Homo sapiens: one gene and its partner. The protein of the gene in region 2 purifies or fractionates together with the protein of the main gene of each other region. This does not show direct contact. Each region holds a gene or a part of one and is shown on either strand. Other genes may lie near its edges.

Region 1 (8,795 bases), on a different chromosome or scaffold from region 2:
CCCTCCCCCACACCTGACTGGTCTTCCGTGGTGTCAGCTGTGTGGATGTGGTTGTCAAACCACAGATGGGACACAGTCATGCGGTTCTGAGTGAGAGTCCCTGTCTTGTCCGAGCAGATCACCGAAGTGGAGCCCAATGTCTCCACCGCCTCCAGGTTCTTGACCACGCAGTTCTTACTGGCCAGGCGCTTGGCTGTCAGGGACAGGCAGACCTGGGGAAGGGGTGAGCACCGCAGGCTGGGGACCCACCCTGGCTTCCAGTCCTCTTCCCCGCGTCAAAGAACGGGGAAGGCTTTACCCCAGCCGCGGGGCTGCGTGTGCAACGTGCTTCTGCAAACACCAGGTGTTTTCTTGGCCCCAGCTTTTGTTCAGCCAGTGCTTTGTTTGGGACTCCTTCCCCAGTCTGCCCAGATACAGTAGCGAGGCCCCTCTCTGAGCTGTCCCAGCCGAGGTTCTGAAAATTCTCTTCACACAATCAAAATGAGAAGAGGAACCTTCCCCGCACCTCCCTGGGGACTGGTCTGGAGCTGGGTGCTGACTGTGGAAGGTCTGGTGACATGCTGGCTGCCTGCACAGGACATCAGCCTCTTCCAGTTAAGGACCCGGCCTCGTCATCTCTGCGCCCTCAATGTGTGGCACAGGACTTGCCCCAGGGTTGCCTCGGGAAGGACTTGCTGAATGAGTGGATGATGGGAAGGCAGGAGAATGGATGGGAGCTAAGTGGACAGATAGACAGGCAGGGAGGTGATGGGGGAAATGTGGAGGAAAGAACAGATGGTTGAGCAGGCCCCTCAGCTCCCTGCATCCCCGCCTGCCCCCACTCACTGTGACAGTGGCCAGCAGCCCCTCAGGCACATAGGCCACCACGATGGCCATGAAGAAGACCATGGCCCGCAGGAAGGTGTAGCCAATGCACATGGCCACAATAAAAAATGTGGCACCGAAGAGAATGGCCAGGCCCGCGATGATGTCCACAAAATGCTCGATCTCGATAGCGATGGGTGTCTTCTCGTTTTCCACCCCCGACGCCAGCGATGCGATGCGCCCAATGATGGTGCGGTCGCCCGTGTTCACCACCAGGCCCTGCACGGTGCCTGCAGGGGGGCCAAGGCGCGACTCAGGGATAGGGGGCGGCAGTGGGGTGTGCACTGCCGTGTGAGCTGAAGGACAGCCAGTCACTGCCAGTGGAGGATGTGACCTGGGAGAGGGTAGTGACAGTGGGAGACAGAGAAGCAGTGTGCCCTGGGGAGGTGGCAGTCACGGGGAGGTGGCAGTCATGCAGGAGAGAGACAGGGAGGCTGAAGCCCCCTGTCCTAGAAGATAGCAGGAGAGAGGCCAGTGGAGGCAGCAGTTACTGGGCAGGCAGGCGGGGGCTTCACAGACCCTCAAGGCACATGGTGGAGAAGAAGGCGATGTTGCGGGTCTCCAGAGGGCTCTCGTGCGTGCACTCGGGTGAGCGGGTCTGTGGCTCAGACTCCCCTGTCAGCGAGGAGTTGTCCACCTTGCAGCCCTGGGCCGCCAGGATGCGGATGTCGGCGGGCACTCTGTCCCCACCTTTCATCTCCACCAGGTCGCCCACCACCAGTTGGTCAGCGTTGATCTGGAATTTGTCTCCATCGCGGATGACAGTGGCTTGCTGCGGGGCAGGGGCACCAAAGTTGAGGTGGACGGGGGTGGGGGTGGGAGCTGCTGCATGTGGGGAGGTAAAGGATGAGGAGAGCTGGGACCCATGGGGAGAGATGGAGGCCACAGATGAGGGACAGGGGCCTGATGGAAGGAGGCTACAGGAGCAGTTTGGAGTCTCTGGGATCTGGAGTGGCTGGGTGCTGGGGAACCCACCTGTGGCACAAGGTTCTTAAAGCTGGCGATGATGTTGGTGCTCTTGAATTCCTGGTAGTAGCCAAAGCAGCCGGTGACGACAACCACAGCAATGAGAGCGATTGCCAGGTACAGCTGGGGACAGGGAAGGGGTGGGGTTATTCAGAGGGGCCGGAAGCTGCCTGCCTGAGGCCACCGACCTGCTCCCTGGTGCCCTGGTTTTCTTGGTTTTCCCCATGCTTTTCCCCACCTACTAGGAAGCTCCATGCACCATTCCCTGTAGCCTTTAGCCCCCTCCCATGTCCCTCATGTCCCACACTCGCCTGCTCTGTCTTCTCAGTGTCTTGTGTTTCTGTGTATATTTCATATCCTCTGGCCCTGAATCCTCAATCTTCCATGTCCCCATATCTGTGACTTGTGCCCCAAATCACTGTGTGCCTTGGTCTGACGTGTTCCCTTCTCCTGTGTCCCCAAGCCTTGCATTCCCCATGTCCACTGTCCCATGTCTCCTCCTGTCCCCATGGCCTGTATTCCCCGTGTCTCCAGTTTCACATCCTGGGTTTTCCATAATCTGCTGCCACCCTCTGTGTGTCCCCTGGGCCCCCTTGTCCCTGCATCCTCACATCCCCGTCCCTGCGTGTGCTGCAGACCTTGTACGTCATGGTCTGTGTCCTCTGTGGCCACGGCCCCCATGTTCTAGCTCCCCAGTCACTGTGTCCCGTGTCTCCCATGTCTGTGTATCTCCGAGTTCCCATCCTGTGTCCCATGGCCATGACTTTTCGAGCCTCTGTCCCATGTCACATGTCCCTGAGTCCCCATGTCCCTTGCCCTCATCTCTGCCATATGTCCAATGTCCCTTGCCCTGCACCTCCATTTCCTCTCTGTCTCTGTGCTTCTATGTCTCATGTTTTGTGTCTCTCTATGTGCTGTGTCCTGAGGCTTGGGTCCCTGCCCTGGTGTCCTATGTCTGAGTCCCAGGGTCTCCTATTCCCCGTGCCTCAGTCTGTCCTGTGTCTGCACTGCATGTCCTCTGCTTCCAAGTCCCATCTCTTTTTTTTTTTTTTTTTTTTTTTTTTAAGATGCAGTCTCGCTCTGTCGCCCAGGCTGGAGTGCAGTGGCATGGTCTTGGCTCACTGCAACATCCACCTCCTGGGTTCAAATGATTCTCCTGCCTCAGCCTCCCAAGTAACTGGGATTACAGGTGCCCGCCACCATGTCTGGCTAATTTTTGTAATTTTAGTAGAGATGGGGTTTTGCCATGTTGGCCAGGCTGGTCTCGAACTCCTGACCTCAGGTGATCTGCCCGCCTCGGCCTCCCAAAGTGCTGGGATTACAGGCATGGGATTACACGCCCGGCCTCCAAATCCCATCTCTTACGTATCACATTGCCATACTCTTTATGCCCCCACCTATGTCCCCATACCCAAGATTCACCCCAGTGTCCCTGTGTCCTGTGTCCTTGGGTCTGCCCCATCCATATCCCAATGTCCTTCACCCTCCATGACCCCTGTCTTGAGACTGCCTTTCGTGTTCGTCTATCCCCATCCTTCTCTGCCCCTCTTGTCCCAAGTCCCAGGCTCAGTGTCTTCCATCCCCAGGTCCCCATGTCCTGAGCCTGTCCCCACAACATGGCTCACATTGTCGTCGGTGGTGAGGTCCCCCTCACTAGCCTGGATGGCAAAGGCGATGAGGCAGATGGCGGCGGCAACCCACATGAGGCACTGCAGGCCCCCGGCCAGCTGCCTCGCGAACTTGACGTACTCTGGGGTGCCCCGTGGTGGCCGCAGTGCGTTGGGCCCATCCCGCAGCAGCAGCTCAGCAGCCAGGCTCGCAGAGAGGCCCTGGGACAGAGGGGCAGGGCGAGGCGGTCCTGGGGGCTTTCCTCCACATGCACACCCCGTGGAAAGCCCCCTGCTTCAGTTTCCCTTCTCCAGCTTGGTCTGTCCTGCTCCTTCTCATCTCTTTGTCTCTTGGTTCCTGCCCCCACCCCATCTCTCCCTCCCTCCTTCATCTCTCCCTTTGTCTCTCTCTCCTCGCTCCCCTTTCTATGTGTCTCTCTCCTGCTGCTCTCTCCTTATTTGTCTCTGCCTTCTCTGTCTTGCTGTCTCTTTTCAGCTACTCCTCTCTCCGTCTCTGTGTGTCACCCTTTCTCTCTAATGCTTTCTCCCTTCTCTCCCTCTCCCTCTCTCTCCCTCTCTCCATCTCCCTCCCTCTCTCCTCCCCTCCCTCCATCCTTTCCTCTCTCCCTCCCTCCCTCTTTCCTTTTCTGCCTCCCTCCCTCTCTCTATTTCTCCATATCTTCCTCTCTTCATCTCTCCCTCTCTCTCCCTCTCTCCATCTCCCTCCTTCCATCTCCCTCTCCCTCCCTCTCTCCTCCTCCCCTTTCTGTACGCTCCCAGTCTCCAGCTCACCTTGGTGGCACTGGTCTGGTATTTCTGTTCCAGCTCCGCCACTGACAGCTGGTGGTCGTTCTGTGTGGTGGGGTGGGGCAGGGTGCTTGCTCTGGGCTCTCCTGGCCCCCTCCCCGCCCACTGCCTGGTTCCCAGCCTACCCTCCAGCTCCCGCCCCTCCCCAGTCAGAGCTCACAATCTCCATCTCCTTCTTCATGTTCTCCAGCTTCTCCTTCCTCTTGCCACCCCCGCCACCCGCCTTCTTCTTCTTGCTCATCTTGGCAGCCATGTCCCCGCCAGGGCCAGGACCCAGCTCCACCGAGTAGAGCTCATAGTTCTCCTGGGAATGGACAGGATGGAGGGAGGGAGAACTCAGATTCCACTGCAACCCCTGTCCCCACTGCACCCCGGACCCCTGGGCCCCACTCACGGCCTTCCCCATGGTGCCCGGTGCCTGTGCTCCCACCCAACAGAGCCTGGGCCCGGACCAGTCCTGATATACCCAGGGAGGGCGGTGGGGTGGAGCAGAACCGCCCGACCACAGCTGATTACAGGCTCCTTGGGGTGACCTCTAGGCCTGGGCACCTCAGGCATTCCCTCCTGGGCTGGCCCCCCCCTCCCCTGCCCAGATCCCCCCATGTCAACCTGCCCTGAGATCAGGGAGCCCCTGGGAACCGCTGCAGCAACAAGAAGAGCAAACATAAGGTGCTCATTATGCGCTGGGCATTGTGCTGACGGCTTCCATGTGCTAACTTATTTAACCTTCCAATAACCCTTTGAGGGGACAAGACCCTTTACAGATGGGGAAACTGAGGCATGGAGGGGTTGAGTCATTCTCCTATGGCTCCATCACAGGCTAGGACATAATGGAGTGAGAACCAGATCAGCTGGCTGCAGAGTGTCCTCTTTCAGTCTAAATAGCACGTGCCTGATCAACTGGAAGAGGAGGGTGCTCCCACACTCTTTTTTTTTTTCTTTTTTTTTTTGAGATGGAGTGTCACTCTGACACCCAGGTTGGAGTGCAGTGGTGCAATCTCAGCTCGCTGCAACCTCCGCCTCCCGGGTTCAAGTGATTCTCCTGCCTCAGCCTCTTGAGTAGCTGGGACTACAGGCACATGCCACCACACCCAGCTAATTTTTGTACTTTTAGTAGAGACGGGGTTTCACCAGGTTGGCCAGGCTGGTCTCGAACTCCTGACCTCAGGTGATCCACCCGCCTTGGCCTCCCAAAGTGCTGGGATTACAGGCGTGAGCCACCATGCCCTGCCATGCTTACAACACTCTCTATGGTGGCTGAATGTTTACTGAACTCTGACTATTCACTATGGGCTGGGTGTGCTCTGTGTGTCACTCAAATGGTTTCCTTAGCATCTAACAGCAGCCCTGTAAAGCAATATTCTCTTCTTAGCCCCCATCAGGGACTTTGCAGAAGATTTCAACGTCTAAGAATTAGGGACAGGGTTCCAGCCCGGGCTTGACCCCAGGGCTTGACCCCAGAGCCTAGCTCTTCTATGGCACCACCAATGGAAAAACCCAAACTTCACTGCAGCAGCACCACACACATGCCAGGCTCTGCACGTGTGACCTCACGGGTCTTTGCAAAAAACCCTGTGCAGGCAGAACTATCATTCCTGTTGTGCAGAGGGGGAAACTGAGGCTCACAGGGACTCACATATCCAGCTACAGACTTTACAGCTCTCAACCATTCCCCGTCCCTACCCTAGATGGGGAAACCAAGGTGCAACATGGGGAAAGGATGTGTCCAAGGGTCTTGGCTTGATCTTGGTGTTGGGTGACAGATGCCAGGAGGCCTGGGGACTCCCTCCTCATCCCTCAGGTAGGGACCTCCATGGGCAGCAGCAGCGAGGGGCTGGGCCAGTGGAATGGTGGGGACCTTGGTATGTTATGGGGTGAGCGTGTCTCCAGGAGCAGGTGAGCGTGCGCCTGATAAGATAACTGCCCTGGCAATGTCCTTCTCTACTGGGGCAGGTCACCTGGGAAACTCAAAGCTGTTGGGCAGCCAGAGCTCCTCCCCGCACCCACACGGCTGGTCATCCCCAGCCTGCTAGAAGAAACCTCCAAAGAAGAGGTGGCGTGGGGCCACATGCTGTCCTTGTAGTGAATCTACTCGCTCACTGGGCTCCCATCAGCTCTGAGCCATGTATGTCAAACAGCTTGTGTCACCCCCTGCTTACAACCCTCCAAAGCCTTCCCTTCCCACTCAGAATAAACTCTGCACTCCTTCCTGCAACATCTGGCCCTGGTCACCTGTCCTGCCTCTGTTGCTGCTAGGTTTCCAGGGGCACTGACCTCTCTGCTGCACTTTGCACAGACCAAGGTCGTTCCTGCTTCAGGACCTTGGTACTTACAGTTCCTTCTGCCTGGGCCCCCTTCCTTAGATGTCTGCACTGGCTTTCTCACCTCTTTCAGGTCTCAGCTCAAATGTCACCTCTTCAGAGAGTCCATTCTGTAATACTGCACACTGTGTTCTGTTCCTTTACCCCACTGTATTTACACCTCCTACTCCAACCTGACACTGTGTTTTCTTTTTATTTGTTTGGTGTTCATTAGAAGGAGGACTGGGCCGGACACTGTGACTCACATCTGTAATCCCAGCACTCTGGAAGGCTGAGGTGGACGGATCATGAGGTCAGGAGTTCGAGACCAGCCTGGTCAACATGGTGAAACCCTGTCTCTACTAAAAATACAAAAATTAGCTGGATGTGGTGGTGTGTGCCTGTAATCCCAGCTACCAGGGAGGCCGAGGCAGGAGAATCACTTGAACCTGGGAGGTGAAAGTTGCAGTGAGCCGAGATCATGCCACTGCACTCCAGCCTGGGTGACAGAGTGAGACTCTGTCTCAAAAAAAAAAAAAAAAAAAAATAGAAAAATAGATAGATAAGAGATGTTAGACAGATAGATGGATACATAAATGATAGATGATTGATAGATTTTTTTTTTTTTTCTTTTTGAGACAGAGTCTTTCTCTGTCGCCCAGGCTGTAGTGCAGTGTCATGATCTCGGCTCACTGCAACCTCTGTCTCCTGGATTCAAGCAATTCTTGTGCCTCAGCCTCCCAAGCAGCTGGGATTACAGGCACCCGCCACCATGCCCAGCTAATTTCTGTATTTTTAGTAGAGACGGGGTTTCACCATGTTGGCCAGGATGGTCTAGAACTCCTGGTCTCAAGTGATCCACCCGCCTTGGCCTCCCAAAGTGCTGGGATTACAGGTGTGAGCCACCATGCCTGGCCAGAATTTTTTAAATTTTTGGCTGAATCATTTGGAAGCAAGTTGGAGACAGGATCCCCTTTATCCATACTTAGGCATGTGTCTTCTATGAATAAGGACATTTTCTTACATAAGCACAGTCTAATAATCAAATTCAGGAAATTAACATTAATAAAACACTAGTAAATAATCTAGAGCAAGCTTGTCCAACCCATGGCCTGCAGGCCATATGTGGCCCAGGACTGCTTTGAATGCTGCCCAATACAAATTCGTAGACTTTCTTAAAACATTATGAGATTTGTTTGCGATTTTTTTTTTTTTTAGCTCATCAGCTATTGATAGTGTTAATGTATTTTATGTGTGACCCAGGACAATTCTTCTTCCAATGTGGCCCAGGGAAGCCAAAAGATTGGACACCCATGATTTGGAGGATTTATTTGAATTTCCCCAGTTTTCCCACTAATGTCCTTTTCCTAGTCCAGGATCCAGTCCGGGACCACACCTCACATTTTGGCTTCCTCCATTGCGTAACAATTCCTCCATCTTTCCTTGTCTTTCATGACCTGGGCGTTTTGGAAGAGTATGATTCAGTGATTTTGTAGACTTCGCTCAGTGTGGCTTTGCTGCTGGTTCTTCGTGATTAAGTTCGGGTTGTGTGCTGGCAGGAACACAGAAGGGATGTGTGTCCCCCCCATCCCCTGCCCCAGAGCATCATCGTGTCAGGCCATGCCCCATTTTGGAGTCTGTAACTTGTCTAGAGCAGGGTGGACATGGTGGGGAGGGGTCTCAAGAGCCTTAGGGAGTGATCAGGAAACCATTCTATGCCCTCTTTAATTTTTACTCAAGACAGTGCCACAGCCAGGGCTGGCACCCAGCTGCCCTGGTAGTTAAAGTAATTGAAAGAAATACAGCCACTGCCTGAGCCCCCAGCACTTCCCCTAAGACTCCAGACCTCCCACACCCAACCCCTTAAAGTGGATGCCTGTGCCAGTCCCAAGGCCTTGTCCTTTTTTTTTTTTTTTTTTTTTGAGACGGAGTCTGGCTCTGTCACCTAGGCTGAAGTGCAGTGGCACGATCTTGGCTTACTGCAACCTCCACCTCCTAGGTTCAAGCGATTCTCCTGCCTCAGCCTCCCAAGTAGCTGGGACTACAGGCACGTACCACCATGCCCAGCTAATTTTTGTATTTTTAGTAGAGATGGGGTTTTGCCATGTTGGCCAGGCTGGTCTCCAACTTCTTACCTCAAGTAATCTGCCCACTTCAGCCTCCCAAAATGCTGGGATAACAGGTGTGAGCCACCACGCCCAGCCACCCTTGTCCATTCTGACCATCCCCTGCTCAGCTAGGTTCATGGGTA
Region 2 (16,725 bases):
GTTTATGTAAAATAATTAAAATATGTGAGTAATCAATATATATCAAAGATTTCCTGGGGACTTATTAAAAAATCTGGTTGCTCAGGCCCTACGCTATATTAATTAAGTCAGAATCCTTGGAATGAGAACACCAGGCATTGTTATTTTTTAAACTCTCCACATGATTCCAGTATGCAACCAAGTTTGACAGCCAGTGTCTCGTAACAGTGCTTCTAGACTTCAGTGTGCATACACATCACCCAGGAGCCTTGGTAACATACAGCTTCTGATTCTGTATTTCTTGGGAGAGGTCCAAACACACTCCTAGGTGCTGCCTCAGGTGCCGACTCATGTACCACACTTTCAGTAGGAAAAATGTACAACAATTTTAGAAACTTTAGCAGTGCTCTATATCTGTACTGTCCAATAAAGTAACCAGTTTCCACATGGGACTGTGGAACACATGAAATTTGGCTAGTGTGAAACTGAATTTTAAATTGTATTTAATCTTAGTTTATTTAGATGTAAAAACTATATTGTTAAACAGAACCTTATTGTTTTGGTAAGACTACTATAACCTATGCGTCATGTAACATATTTTTGTTGTAGTGTGTGTATACTTTTGAATTTTAAAAATGTGGCTATTAGAAACATTTTAAGTTAACACTCGTGTGTGGCGTTATATTTCAATGGAACAGCATTACTGTCATCAGTGGGATACATCCTCAGTCTGTTCTCAGTGAGGAACCAAACCCTGGGAGCAACTCTGTCATTGACCTGCCATTCCAGTGTTTTCTTTAGACGGGGAGTGTTTTAAGAAATTTGATTTCCTGATCTAAATTTGTATCTTTAGACCTTTCTGAGAACCAAATAGACTTGGAAGGGTTGACTGCATAGACTGCTTTTTCATGCTCACTCTGTCACAATGTGGCAAATACTTGTTTTCCCCAAATTCACATTGAAACTGCCTGGAGAAGGAAGTTGGTCCTGAAAAAGACGTGCCTGGCTTCTTATCCTTTGTCTCTTTTACTACTTTTGCCTCACAACTTTTCTATTTTCAACTTAAAGGTTTTAATTAAACAAAATTTTATAAAAATTGAAGCAATATAGTAGTTATATAAAGTGAAAAGGGAAAGCTCTTCTATTCCATAGTACAGAGTTTGAAAGGTGTTCTTCCAGACCTTTTCTACAGCCACTTAATACTTTTAAAGCAGAAAATACAATTTTTTCACTTAAGAAAACCATCAAGTCCTAAGAAACACTTCATTTCCATGTTAGTGATATATCAGAGACATAACACTGCTGAAAAGATGAGGAAAAGGAAACTACTACATAGAAAAAGAGGAAGGGAAGAGGAGAAAAGAAGAAAAATGAAATATGAAAGAAGACAAGACTAGGTAAAGAGAATGGTTCCTAGCTGTTATAGGAGTACTCTATGAAGTAATTAATAGCTCTTGCTGTTGCTATTTACCTGCTATCTCCATTGAAATTGGTTGATTAATAGTTCTTTAATCTTCTTAACTCTTTCTTCCACATTTCTGAGTCATAACCCCTAGGCTTATACAACTATTTTCTAACAGGTTTTGAGCAATAGGAACTTTTGTCCAAAAATGAAATCTTATTTCAGAACCTACATAATAAAGCTGATAGGCAGAGCTGCTGTGTTGCCCTAGAGCCCAACCTCTGGCCTCTTCCTCACCTCTAGGCCTCCTGGAAGCAGCACCTTGCCCAAGGGTTTCACTGATTACAGTTTGGGATATACTCTTACTAAGGCCTGTCTCTGCTGAGGAGCAGTAATTTAAAAGAGAAAAATATTCCAGGTTGGAAACAGTAATGTTCAGAGAGGATTGTGTGCATAATGATTAAAGGAGCAACTTTATGTAGTAATTAATTAATTATTGAAAATAGTGGTCTTTATGACTTTTTAGTTGCTTTCTGATGTTATTGTATTTTAAAATGTGCAAATCTTTTTTTTTTTTTCTTGAGACAGAGTCGCACTCTGTCACTCAGGCTGGAGTGCAGTGGTGTGATCTCGGCTCACTGCAACCTCCGCCTCCTGGGTTCAAGCAGTTCTCTGCCTCAGCCTCCTGAGCAGCTGGGATGACAAGGTGCCGGTCACCACGCCTGGCTAATTTTTTGTATTTTTAGTAGAGATGGGGTTTCACTATCTTGGCCAGGCTGATCTTGAACTCCTGACCTGGTGATCCTCCCAAAGTGCTGGGATTACAGGCCTGAGCCACCGTGCCCAGCCTTCTTCTTTTTTTTTTTTTTGAGACGGAATTTTGCTCTTGTTGCCCAGGCTGGAGTGCAATGGCGCGATCTTGGCTCACTGAAACCTCCACCTCCTGGGTTCAAGTGATTCTCCTGCCTCAGCCTCCCAAGTAGCTGGGATTACAGGTACATGCCACCATGCCTGGCTAATTTTTGTATTTTTAGTTGAGACAGGGTTTCACATGTTGGCCAGGCTGGTCTCAAACTCCTGACCTCAGGTGATCCACCCACCTTGGCCTCCCAAAGTCCTGGGATTACCGCCGTGAGCCACCACGCCTGGCCAAAATGTGCAAATCTTATACTCTTTGACCTGTATTCTGATTAAGAGGACTCATTTGCAGGGCGTCTACTCAGTGACCAAGGTTTGTGATATAATTAATAGTTTAACAGTTTTAATCTCAAAAAATAGTATTGGGATCTGAGCTATGTAAGACATTTTCTAAAATCTTTTCTATTATTTTCTCTTTTAGGCGAAGATGATGGTGAGCAAAACTCATGTTTGTTTGTTTCAAGTGTGGAGGAAATTTTTTGTAACAATCAGAATTTGATTTTTCCTTTATGGAATTCAAAAGAAAGTATTCCTGTTTTCTAAGAAAATAGCTACTAATGAATGGTGACCAAAAAAAAAAAGATTATTTTATATATATCAAGTTATCCTATGTTAAAAAAAAAAGACCATTTTTCCTAAATGCTTAGTTTGTAAATCAATTCACATTACAAGTTCCCCATTTTCTGGTTATTATATAATTTACTTGAATATGTCCTGAGGAAGTGGGGAGAAGGAGTTAAGGTAGTTTTACCAGATAATTTGTCTTGTGACCTCTTTATTTTCTTATTGACTGAAATTTCTAACCTCAGGTATCAATATAATACTTAATTTGATGACGAGCAATTTATTAACAATTGATTATTGAATGAATGTTGGTTAAAAGATACCCCCAAAATAGCCAAAATAATTATTTCAACTGAATGTTTACCTCTCTGTGTTCAGGGGCACTGATGGGCATTGTCCAGGGTAGGAAGATGTTTAAAACATGGTGCTTTCCCTCTAGGAGCTGAGGATATATAGGATAGTAGGAAAGATAAGCACTGTACATAAACAATGGTAATGAGGTAAAGAAATACTCCATAGATGGTACAAACAGTAGGTGATATATATAGCTCCTTAGAGGAGAAACAGATCGTATCTCACAGGAGCGATGTGGGAAAGCTTACTGGAGGAGGGGTAGCATTTGAGGTGAATTTTGAATAATGGGACAGATTTAGATCCGTACAATTGGATAGTGCATGTTGGAGGAAACAGCATGCAGCTGGGAGTTGAGACAAGTCAGGCATGTTTGGGGAGACAGTAAAGAGACCCTTTTAGTGGTAGGTAAGACTATATAGTGGTAGTTTAAATTAGATTGATAGAGGCCATATTTTTTAGTACGTTGGGTACTAGACTTTTCCTGTTGGCACTTGAGGTGTTTTGAATCACAAGTGATATAATGATAAATGATCCTTACTATATGTTGAATGAATTAATTTGTTAGACGTTTTCATTTTTGTACAAAGTATGAAGACTCTCAGGAGGCAAAGTAATTCCCCACCGTCTAGTTTATCCCTAGACTCCTTACTCAGCTCATCTGAGTGTTCGGTTTTTCTATAATTTCTATCATTCTCAATTTAAAAAAAAACAACATCAAGGATAGGTAACGCAGGAAGTGCATTAACAATTTTGATTCTTATTGACTGCTCTCTTTTCTTTCTCTTTCCCCAACTCAGAAGAAGGTTACAGGGCCAGGAATGGTTCTTTTTTTTTTTTTTTTTCAAGTGTTTAACATGTTTTGAAATATGTATACATTGTGGAATGGGTATATTGAGCTAATTAGCTCACATACCATTTTTTTGGCGAAAACACTTAAAATCGCAGCAATTTTCAAGAATACAATACGTTGTAATTAACTGTAGTCAGCATGTTCTACAATAAATCTCTTGAACTTACTGCATTTCTTTAACTGAAATTTTGTATCCCTTGACCAGCATCTCCCTGACCCCAGGAATGTTCTTCAGCATTAGTACACAGATTAGTCAAGCCCTTCTGTATTCTATTAACTTTCCTGAAGAATTATATTGAAAATTAAGAGATTTTTTAGCTGTCCCTTAAAACTTATTAGTCTTAGAAAATTGAGGAAATATTTTTAGTTTTATTGGATTAGGAAAAATGGAATAATCAATAGTTGGACGTTTGTGTTAATTATAATTCCTTATTTTCTTGGAATATTTAAAAAGCACTATGGTTGTTATGAAAAGCAAATTTGAGATCGTTAAAATGTTTGCCCTATGTTTTCAGATATTTACACCTTCAATGAATAAGATTTATATACTTTTTTTTTTTAAAAGAGGCAGGATCTTGCTATGTTGCCCAGGTTGGATCCGATCTCCTGGGCTCAAGCAATCCTTCCCCCTCAACCTTCTGAGTTAACTGGGGCTACAGGTCCAAGCCACTGTGGCCAGCTCATATTTTGACTGAAATGTTTTCTTAAAAAATTTAATAGTCAAAATATTTGTAAAAACACTCTCTTAAAGTTACTTAAATTATTTGTAGGTTTTATTTCCTAGAACCATATGGTTATTTTTCTATTTTACCTGAAGCAGTAGACATTTTAGAGAGATTACTTAATCTGTCATAATTTTTTTTTTTTTTTTTTTTTTTTTTGAGACAGGGTCTCACTCTGTCACCCAGGCTGGAGGGCAGTGGTATGATCTCGGCTCACAGCAACCTTAGCCTCCTGGGTCCAAGCAATTCTCCTGCCTCATCCTCCCGAGTAGCTGGATTACAGGCCTGCACCTCCATACCCGGCTAATTTTTTGTATTTTTAGTAGAGATGGGGTTTCGCCATGTTGGCCAGGCTGGTCTTAAACTCCTGGCCTCAAGTGATCAGCCCACCTCGGCCTCCCAAAGTGCTAGGATTATAGGCATGAGCCACCATGCCCTGCAGAAAGATTTTATAAACCTAATTTATTCTACTTTATAAATGACCATATAATGTTTTAATCCACTTTTCTCTCTCTCTCAGGAGAATCATTCTACACATGGCTAGAAGGTAAACAGTCTGTTCTAAATTTATTGGATTTTTTGTTAAAAAATACTGATTTATTTAGCATATTTTTGTAAGGTCTAGGATTTTATTACCTAGTCAACTAATTTTGACAGTTTGAAAAAAAAAATGTGTTTTAGGTTAACATATGGGGATAAAATTATGTGAAAAGTTTGAAGATAGTGGTCAGCTAAAAACCAGGTTTATATAAATACACAGGCCAAATACTGTCATCAGGTTTTCATAACTGGTTCCCTAATCTTATTTCTGTTCTGTATGTAATGTTCATTCAAACTACTTCTCTAGTAACGAGTATGCAAAATATTTTAAAAGTGGAGACATTCCTTTTGGAAGGAAGTACTTTTTATATATAAAATTAATGGAAGATAAATATGAATTCAAAAGATTCGAAACATATTTGCCACGTTAATATAGTCTAACCTTGTCTGATTAAAAGATAAAGCAATATAGATCCTGATATATTAGATGCTTTTGCATTCTTGTACTTCCAGTGTTGAAAATATCAAATGCTATTAATGGAAAGGTGAAATGTTGTAGGATTTTAATAACTCAGGTTAATAACTGGATATATGATGCTTTTAAAAATTTACCTTACCAAATTGCCATTAGTATATGAAATTAAAAATTAAAATATATTAGTAACAGATAAGCAAGTAGAATGACATAGGAAAATTGATATTTCATAGCCATAACCTTATAGGAATACTACAGAGTAAAACTAATTCTATTTTATGCATGTCAATTGGTCATGTTATCTTATGAATATTATTTCTTTTTTTTTTTTTTGAGTCAGAGTCTCGCTGTTGCCCAGGCTGGAGTGCAGTGGCGCCATCTCGGCTCACTGCAACCTCTGCCTCCCAGGGTCAAGTGATCCTCCTGCCTCAGCCTCCCAAATAGCTGGGATTACAGGCACCCGCCACCACACCCAGCTAATTTTTGTATTTTTAGTAGAGATGAGGTTTCGCCGTGTTGGCCAGGCTGGTTTGAACTCCAGGCCTCAAGTGATCTGCCCACCTCAGCCTCCCAAAGTGCTGGGATAACAGGTGTGAGCCACCATACCTGGCCTATTTCTTTGTTTGTAATGAACTATGTGCATATGTTGGCCATTATTAAGGTGAACATTATTGATGTGCAAATTCTGTTAGGAGTTATATGAGAAAATCACTTATGTAGAAGATGTTTAGCTTTGTTTAATAAGCTCTACTCTAAAGATACAAATTGTGAAAAGTAGCATTTAGGCTAGAAAAGGTAGTCAGAGACTCTGAGTGTTAGTAATGAGAATGAAATTTAGAAACAATATTGGATTCTATGTATATTATATCAACCATTCTTCCAGTCTTACTGTTTTGAGTATCTGAATATTGATACATGGTTCCAAAGAGCATTCCCTTATAGGCAGCTGACTCAACCTTTTCTGAGATTCAGTTTCCTCATCTGGAGCGTGGAGAGGAGCAATAGCAGTCCTACTTACACTGTGAGTGTAGATGATTCCTGTAAAGGTTCCTTTGGAAACCACAAATCCACGTCCAAATGCCAAATATTACTGTTACAGTAAATGCAACCCCTTTCTGAAAGTTCAAGTGCTGAAAATGCATTTTAATGAAATTAAATCGAAAAGAGGAAGAAGAGAACCATTTTCTAAATTGTGTAATTGAATTGCTCTATGTTGTTAGAAGTTGGTGGATTCTGCCTTGGTAAGTCAGCTTTTGCAGATGTCACTTCAGAGTGAGATTGAGAAGGCTTTTGCCTGGACCTCGGTAATTAAAGATACCATCCAGCCTGGCACAGACTGTGTGTAGGCCAGGAGAAGCTCTCCAGCAATTTCCTGCTAAGTGTGTTGTGTGTCTGGGTGCACTTACTTGGTGCATATTTTATTATTAATTTGCTTAAAGTTACCTGTTTTTCACAGTTTGTGGAAATACATTTCTATTCCTCTCCCCTCACTTATCCCCTACCTCATTGCAGTGGTAGGGGCTTTGTGGGCTTTGCAAATTATAACTGCCTCCCAGTTTTCCAGGTCCTGGTTTGTAGGCATATGGATTTTCATGAGTTTTGCTTTGCTTACTGTCCCTTCTCTTGTCTTTATCCATTTTATTGGACATAAGCACTGCTTAGAGAGAGAGGTTGGGAAGAAAATAAAGTGAACTTCAAATCTGATATTTTGTTACTTGATAATAGATCTGATGAAAAGTTTTAGTAGAAGAGAAGTTAGTACTTAATGTTGTATTAAATATATTCATATTGTTTGTATCCATTGTTATCGTAAACATTCAAAATTGTCATATACTTTTAGGGAGGAAGCTACAAAATAAAATTCAATTTCTTTTGGTCCCCATCCATGACAATTTGAATATTCTAGCAAGAATTCCCAATTAGGGAACGAGAACTCAAAAGAATTATTTTTTCTAGTTAGAGGCCACGTGCTTCAGAATCATCTGTGATAGGACAGAAAGAGAGAGTGAATTGCTGGAAAATCTTAATAGACACAAAGAAAACCACATACTCTTACATTAAAAAAAAATTTCCCCCATCATATAAATGAGACTATTTTGCTTTCCACTATTAAAGCCCATTTTCCTGCATGGGGAAAGTGTTAAAAACCTGTTGGATGAAGGAGGGAAAAGCTCATGGCCGTGTATCCAGTGACTTCTTAAAATTTTCTGCATTTTTATTTATTTAAGAATTTACCATCTTAATCATTTTTAAGTTTACTGTTTAGTGGCATTAAATACATTCACAATGTGTATTACTCCTATTATGAGAGAAAATCTTTTAAAATGGGGGCAGGGGTTAGGATAGGATGACGGGATATCTTGACCTCTTAAGTTCTCAGCAAAAAAGCCCCTGTGGCTTAAGAAGGCTACATCAAATAACGTTCTGTTATATTCCTGTACTCCACTGATATGATTCCACTGAAGTAGTAAACAGTCAACTTGTTGTTCTTTTTTTAATTAGTTGAAATTCCTGGATTTCTGTTTTCCAAGTTTCAGCTCCTTACAAGTAGAACATATGGTTAAAAAATTAGACAATTTCAGGGCAGAAGGTTAATAAAACCCTTATTTCTCTGCTAGCAAATAACACATATAAGGAAGGGGGAAAAATCCAGCAGTGACTTTATAATTACATTTACTTCAGTAAGTTCTTAGCCTAAACCACAAGAAAACCTGTGCTGTTGCTGTCTAACATGGGAACTTGCCAACTTTATCCATAGTGTTTTGACCCCTAGTTGCTCAAACTTTTCTGCTTTTTTCAGCATTAAGTTCTCATCATATTCAGTTAACTCCATTCTGAAGCCAAAATCTTACTTTGCCTTCTAGTGAGAGAATCTTGATCTAATCAGTTTTATATTATTCCTTGATTTATTTTAATGTTCTTCAATCAAAAATAAGCCTACATACTGAACCTCCTTGAGTCAATATTTCTGATATCTAAATAGGTGTAATTTCTTTTTCAATATTTTTCTGAATAGGTTTGTGTCTGGAGAAAAGAGTCTTCTATAAGCTTATATCGGGACTTCATGCTAGCATCAATTTACATCTATGCGCAAATTATCTTTTGGAAGGTAATCATATTTTTAAGTCGAGATTTTGCCTTCTATTAGTGTAAAAATTATTGGAGAGAATACATATTCTTTAGAGCAGAAAAAAAATCCTGTTTACTAAAACAATGTAATGTATTTCTCTTTCTCTTTAGAAACCTGGGGTAAGCCCAGTTGGGGACCTAATATTAAAGAATTCAAACACCGCTTTGACCCTGTGGAAACCAAGGGAGAAGGTCCAAGAAGGCTCAAGAATCTTTACTTTTTATACTTGATTGAGCTTCGAGCTTTGTCAAAGGTGGCTCCATATTTTGAGCGCTCAATTGTCGATCTTTACACTGGAAATGCAGAAGAAGATGCTGACACAAAAACTCTTCTACTGAATATCTTTCAAGATACAAAGTAAGAATTGACTATCCGTGATTTGAAATTCTCCTCTCTGTATTCAAATGAGGTAGCACTTAAAGTACACAAAAACTGACTCCTAAAAGTTAACCGAGGGGAGATGTAGAACAGAAAAGGAAAGTGATCAATAGAACAACAGAATTTAAAAATATTTCTGAAAATGTTGATGAAAAAGCATTAATAAGGCTTTCTTTTGCAGAAATTTTCACACTTGAGAATAGTGCTTTAAAATATCACTAAATTTTATGTAGTATCAAAATTTAGTGCTACTTTAATGGTCTTTCTACCAATTTTGTATTCTTCTAGTCACTTTATTTACTTACTTATTTTTGAGACAGAGGCTTGCTCTGTTGCCCAGGCTGGAGTGCAATGGCACAATCTTGGCTCACTGCAGCCTCTGCCTCCCAGGTTCAAGCAATTCTTGTGCCTCAGCCTTCTAAGTAACTGAGATTACAGGTGTGTGCCATCACACCCAGCTAATTTTTGTATTTTTAGTAGAGATAGGGTTTCACCATGTTGGACAGGCTGGTCTCAAGCTCCTGGCCTCAAGTGATGCACCCTCCTCTGCCTCCCAAAGTGCTGGGATTAGAGGCATGGGCCATCGCGCCTGGCCTCTAGTCACTATATTTAAATTTAGATGATAATATACATGTGTTTGCATTGGGATGGATATGTAAGGAAACATTAGCCTTATCTTCTAGAATATAACCTTTTAAACAAAACGCTTGGTCAAGAAAACTTGAGTTAACTGGTTTTTAAAATAGCCTGGAAGAGAAAGATTAAAAAGTGTTTAAAGTAAATTATGTATTAAATTTTTAAAGAATATTAAGGGAATATTGCCTATTTTTTACATAGATTGTTTTCAGTTAATTTTTTAGATTACCTGTGTCATTTATTTAAAACATTACAGTCTTACTAAATTTAACAGCCATCTGTGTCTTGCTTTAGTCTTTTATGAAATAGTTTATGTGTGAACTGTTTGTCACTTTTCTACATTACCAAAACTTACATCGGAGTAAATAATGAATTTTAAATATTCATAAGGATAGAAAATTTTATCAGGTTTCTGATACAGAGTACGTGGATTTTTCATGTGTAACTTAATCCAATACTATCATTTTATCAGGTCCTTTCCCATGCACTTTGATGAGAAATCCATGTTTGCAGGTGACAAAAAAGGGGCCAAGTCACTAAAGGTAAAAAGTTCTCGATTGGGACACGGGGTTGGGAGCAGTTTGCTGGTTATGCTTTAATGCTGTGCATCCAAACTGTTTTCTTTCCCAGTTTTCCAGCTTCTTGTCAGAGTTGGTCTGATTGGATTTTAATACAAATGGTACAAAAAGCCTTTCCATATTTCTCAGTTCCATTGACCAACTGCTTAGTGAATCATTGGTCATTAGTATGTCCTATAACACCTTTATAAATGTCTTTTTAAAAGATACTAGTTGAGGGAAAGTTTTCTTAGTTTAAAAGCAGTGTATATTGTCGTTTTGATGCAGCTTTCAGAATACCATGAGCTTTTAGCCACTTTGAGGACAATAAATATTTTTCTAAAGTTTATTTTATGGAATGTTACGGTTTTTGAAACATATATTATGTTTTTGTCCCTTTGGACTAACTTAAAAGGTTAAAACTACCTGTTAACATGTGACATCAGAAGGAGAATATGTTTTGGGAACATTACCAAACTTCATGTTAGGTGTTCTTTATTTTCATTTGCTTAAAGTACATTAAGAAACAAATTGTACCCTTAAAATGTTCATAAAAGTATTTGAAATTGGCATTTTTTTTTTTTTTACTTTTAAATTTATTTTTTGAGATGGGGTCTCGCTATGTTGCCCAGGCTGGTCTCAAACTCCTGGCCCTGAGCTGTCTTCCCACCTCAGCCTCCCAAGTACCTAGGATTACAGGCACAAGCCACCATACCTGGCCACAAATAATCTTTGAGTACAACTTCATAGTCTTTTATATGTACTTCTGAAATCCGGGTAGTTTCAAAAACTGAAACATTTTCTTATGTTTAGTGCAAGGTAATTTTTTAGCAAAACCTGACCTAAACTGGTGTAAGAATATAGCAGATATTCGTAGTTTTGTGGGGTTGTTTTCAAATTCTGCTTGGTATGAATTTTTTATATTTTGCTACAGAAACATTAACGGATTTGACTGCAGGGTGTTTCCTCACACTCTGGTGAGATGTTTCATAATATACAGTACATGTACTGTATTTCTAAAATTTAAAAACTTCTGAATTCTAAAACACATTTGACCCCAAGATGTTTTAGATGTGGATGTACTATAGGAACCAATAAATCAATACTGAGTGATTCTCCTTTGGCGAGACTTTCTTGGTATTTCTGAAATAAGTAATTTAGTCACAACTATATTTTAGTGTTGGAAGGTTGTTTTATTTTACAGTTGTTTTAGAGGTATATTGCCATTTTGGTATTTTGTATGTTAATTCATTTTTATAATGCTTCCTGTTTTCTAAGTATCAACACATATGTTCTACTTTTAATCTTCAGAATGATCTTGTGTAATAGGGCAACTATAATTATGTATGTTTTTGTAGATGAGGAAAGTGAGACTAAGCAAAGCCTAAGTGTCTCACAGCAAGCTTTTAACTACACAATGCTGGGATTTTGTTTGCTGTTTGTCAAGAATGTATGAAGGAGAACCTATGTCCCTTTTCCATCTGCTGCAAAGAACTTACATTACATGAGAATATGACCAGCACAGGAGTTTTTGTGTTCTATTTATATTGTCTTTCTTTGCCAAGGTATTGATTCCTTTCAACCCTCTGGCAGCTGGTCAGGGCTTGTGGTAGCCAGAGTTTTCAGGCTACTTGCCTCCCGCTTCATGCAATAAAATATTTCCCTCAATGCAATAAAATGATTTTTATTTTCTGCAGTTGCCATGTGAAACAAATGAGGAAATTTTCTCTTAACCAATCTTATCCGCAGATAAAGTGAGACCAACCTTAAAGGCATATTGCACACAAATGCTTATAGGCAGAAGAATTTCCCCAGTGTAGGAAACTTCTCTTTTTTTTTTTTTTTTTTTTTTGAGACAGAGTTTCACTCTAGTTGCCCAGGCTGGAGTGCAGTGGTGCGATCTTGGCTCACTGCAACCTCCACCTCCCGGGTTCAAGCTATTCTTCTTCCTCAGCCTCCCAAGTAGCTGGGATTACAGGCATGCACCACCACACCTGGCAGATTTTGTATTTTTAGTAGACATGAGGTTTCACTATGTTGTTTAGGCTGGTCTCAAACTTATGACCTCAAGTGATCACACCTTGGTCTCCCAAAGTGCTGGGATTACAGGCGTGAGCCACCCTGCCTGACCAGTGTGGGAAACTATTACAGCAAAATAGAGGGATCCAGTAAGCATCTCCATAACAACTGCATTAGCAAATGTAGAGGACTGTGGGACCATATGTGTCACACAGGCCTGTTATCATTCATATTGATTGAGCAACCATGACAAACATAGTGTGGTACTAAGGAGTGATACAAAAATTGATCATTGTTCTAGGACTAGCTTTCTGATATAGGCTTACACAAAGCAAAGGATCAAAAATAAGTGAAACATAAACTAGACATATTTATTGTTGGTTGTATGTAGATAACAAATGGAAGCAGCAATTAAGTTCCTTAAAAGTAAAGACCATGTATTATTTACTTTTGTATCTCCCATAGTGCATATTTTGGTGCTTTGCATAAAGTAGCTCCTCAGTGGAAAGTGAATTAATATGCAGAATGAATTTTATTAATTTCCATTAATGTCAGTATTTTATGTACCATGTTATAGTATACAAGTATCAAGTATTTTTCTTTACTGTTGAAAAACACAACTCGGGTTGGGTATGGTGGCTTACACCGTAATCCCAGCACTTTGGGAGGTCGAGGTGGGCAGATCATTTGAGGCCAGGAGTTCAAGACCAGCCTGGACAACATGGCGAAACCCCGTCTCTACTAAAAATACAAAAATTAGCTGGGCATGGCGGCATGCGCCTATAATCTAAGCTACTTGGGAGGCTGAGGAGACAGGAGAATCCCTTGAACCTGGGAGGTGGAGGTTGCACTAAGCCGAGATGGCACCACTGCACTCCAGCCTGGGCGACAAAGCAAAACTCCTTCTCAAACAAACAAAAAACACAACTGATTTATTAATAAGCATCAAAACTTACTTATCGTTTAGCCAAATGCGGTTCAATTTTAAAAGTCTAATTAGACTGAAAATATTTTCTGCTTGCTAGGAGGAATTCCGATTACATTTCAAGAATATCTCCCGTATAATGGACTGTGTTGGATGTGACAAATGCAGATTATGGGGAAAATTACAGGTATATGTGTTGTCTTCTCTTTTGAAGCCATTACTAACCTTTATTTTTTCCACTGAGTCCAAGCTTTTTATTAAAATGTCCTCATTGTTCATTGAATTAGAATTTAGGAATAGGCAGATCCAAGGTGTTTTTTCTGTTGATGAAAAAATTAAAGTATATGTGTTACATGTATGTGAAAGGATGTTTCTCATATTATTCTTTAGTGATTTTAGTTTTATTGTGTCTATGTTTCTATTGATACAATACCAGATTCATTTGTGAAGTTGGTGGTCATTACGAACCGAGTATATCCGTATTTTACATATGTATATAGAAAGGTAAAATGTAATTACATAAAAAGATTGAAATATGAAGTCTTGGTCATTGAATTTGTATAAATGAGCAAAAGAAGGTCACTTAGTCAAAACAGGAAAGCTCCGCAAGACAGGTCCATTACTCTGTGTAAGCCAGTGTCAAAAGGATTGTTGAATATTTTATCTCTTTCTAACAAAGATGGTAACTTATAGAAAATTAAGAGACAAAATTATTACAGTGGAGGCTATACTGAAATAAAATGTCTTTTTCTATAGTGCTAATAATTGAGAAATTATTAAGTGTGGGTATCAATAATCTCTGAGTTTTGAATTGCTAAAAGCTGTAAAAAGTCCTTTATGGTTACAAATTGAACATTGTAATCCTAATATGGTATTTTCAAGGTTAAAAAAGTCATTTTAATAATTTGGAATAGTATGATATGTATTCAATAAGTGTTAAGACTATTCAGGTTTCCTTAACTGCTCAGATGTGTTTATTATATGCATAACCTGTGAGAAAGTAGAAACTGTAGTAATATTTTTGTGAAAAGCTCAGTTCATATGAATTTCCTAACTGGCATAACAGTGGCTATATATTCCTTTAAGCCTTTTTACTAGTTATTATTATTTAAAGTTAATTATGAGTTTATTGCTATTTTCTTTAGACTCAGGGTTTAGGAACTGCCCTGAAGATATTATTCTCTGAAAAAGAAATCCAAAAGCTTCCAGAGAATAGTCCATCTAAAGGCTTCCAACTCACCCGACAGGAAATAGTTGCTCTTTTAAATGCTTTTGGAAGGTAAGAACCATTATATGTTGAAGATTTTTGATTTCCCATTGGGTTTCAACAAACTGCAAAGATAATCTTCTTTGCTAAAAGTAGGGTTTGTTTTGTTGACAAAAAAAAATTTTATATTGTATCTGTACTAACTTAGAGAGGCCTTAATGCTGACAAGTCAGTTTCTCTACAGGTCATAGGAAAAACTAAGTTTCCAATTGCCAGTGTTTTTCAGTTTGCTGCCTTAATTTTGTAAGGGAGATATTCTTCTAATATTCTTTTTGCTTGGCTATAACTTGTTCAACTACAATAGCAGGAGTAAGGAATGTGTGATTGAGAAGGTGATAAAAGAAAATTAAAACCTTCATCTGCTCCTTATTTTTCTTAAATTTTCATTACTATTTTTTTCTTTTCTCACCTTTTTCCTGCACTATGCTCTTTATTTCTGAAGCTCAGAGGTCATTTTTCTTTCACTCATTTCTACATGATTTACTTCTGTATAGAGACATATAATTTGCTTGCTTGTTTATATCACCAGTGGTTTAAAAAATAATTTGAATTTGCCAGCAGAGATACATGTAATGCCAACTGAGGAATACAGAACAGAAGGAAAAGAATCACAGAAAATAATACTATGCTTCCTTGGGGAAAAAGAGAAAAAAGTCAACTTGAGGAAGAATTAAAAAAAAAAAAATAGGGGACTAAGTAATACAAAGATTATTTCTTGGTTTTCTTAACATGTGTTTTAAGTTAAAAAGAAGCAGTTAAATTAAAAACAGATTTATTATATGTCCCCTGCTTTTTTTTTTTTTTTTTTTTTTTTTAAAAGAGATGAGGGTCTCGCTCTGTCATCCAGGCTGGAATGCAGTGGCACAATCATGGCTCACTGCAGCATCCAAATCCTGGGGTCAGGCGTTCCTTCCACTTGAGCTTCCCAAGTAGCTGGGACTACGGACACATGCTATTTTGCCTGGCTAATTAAAAAATTTTTTTTGTAGAGATGGGGGTCTCACTTTGTTGTCCAGTCTGGTCTCAAACACCTGGCTTCAAGTGATTCTCCTGTCTTGGCCTCCCAAAGTGCTGGGATTACAGGCATGAGCCACTGTACCTGGCCATTTCCCATCTTAATAACAAGGATTTCAGCTGTTGCTTCCCTGTATTTAAAGATGACTATGTAGGTTGAGATTTCAGACACAGGATAGATATAGACTATCCATTAACTGGTATTTCATAAAAAATTCAGTCCATCCACTTATGAGGCCTGTAGAAAGATAACACAGGAGATACTGAATGAAATTTAAATAAATTGAAATGAAAAATATTGTAAATAACTTAAGCATCTCTTAAGTCCAAATTAAATTGAGAAAGATGAAAACAATTGAGAATTTCAAAACAATTGAAAATTTCCTTCGATCTCATAAAAAATATTCACAAATGCAGCCTTTCTTGTTTTAGTTCTATATCTAGAGCTTATTACCTTTTATTGTTCCCTAGAGTAATGGACTCAGAATCAGGGGTCCTAAAGTTCTGGAATCCTGGCCTGCCCTTTAGTAGTGGTATGAACTCAGGCAAATCACTGCTTTCCTAGTTTGTTTCCTGATAATGAGATCATATATGTGATGGGCTTAGAACATTGCCTGTCCTCCTAAGTGATTAAGGAATAATTTTTCTTCTATCAAATAGTTAAAGATTTTTCTTCTATCACCCCTGAATTGTACATAGGGATACTTGAGCTTTTAGAATTACTTTTTTATATTTCCCATCCCAGAGTTTTACTTTTTGGCCTGGGCTGAGAAGCACTTCATTTAGTCAGTCAGTAATCATTTACTGAATACTATAAGCATCAATGGGTATGGGGCACAGGAGAGAGACTCAGCAGGAGATGAAATAGAGTCTTTACCCTTAGGGAGCTAACAACATAAGACAAATTAGTGTGTTTGGGGAACATTGAGTAAAGAGCAATCATTTGAAGAGGAATGTGCAAAATAAATTTATTAGACCAATTGTAAATGATTTGA

The links.
Region 1: the proteins of ERO1B (region 2) and ATP4A purify together in Homo sapiens (affinity purification with mass spectrometry; 3 studies listed by BioGRID and IntAct, with this or other methods). This does not show direct contact.

Annotation. Positions count from the first base shown.
Region 1 is NC_000019.10:35,558,980-35,567,774, forward strand, and holds the start of ATP4A (potassium-transporting ATPase alpha chain 1), read right to left. Parts: upstream 4,680-8,795; 5' UTR 4,651-4,679; coding exon 4,639-4,650; intron 4,549-4,638; coding exon 4,405-4,548; intron 4,290-4,404; coding exon 4,230-4,289; intron 3,660-4,229; coding exon 3,456-3,659; intron 1,954-3,455; coding exon 1,840-1,953; intron 1,637-1,839; coding exon 1,384-1,636; intron 1,095-1,383; coding exon 826-1,094; intron 213-825; coding exon 14-212; intron 1-13. UniProt on the Homo sapiens protein: The catalytic subunit of the gastric H(+)/K(+) ATPase pump which transports H(+) ions in exchange for K(+) ions across the apical membrane of parietal cells.
Region 2 is NC_000001.11:236,218,835-236,235,559, reverse strand, and holds part of ERO1B (ERO1-like protein beta precursor), read left to right. Parts: intron 1-2,720; coding exon 2,721-2,732; intron 2,733-5,309; coding exon 5,310-5,336; intron 5,337-8,820; coding exon 8,821-8,913; intron 8,914-9,044; coding exon 9,045-9,291; intron 9,292-10,420; coding exon 10,421-10,490; intron 10,491-13,549; coding exon 13,550-13,636; intron 13,637-13,674; exon of another isoform or gene 13,675-14,594; coding exon 14,595-14,728; intron 14,729-16,725.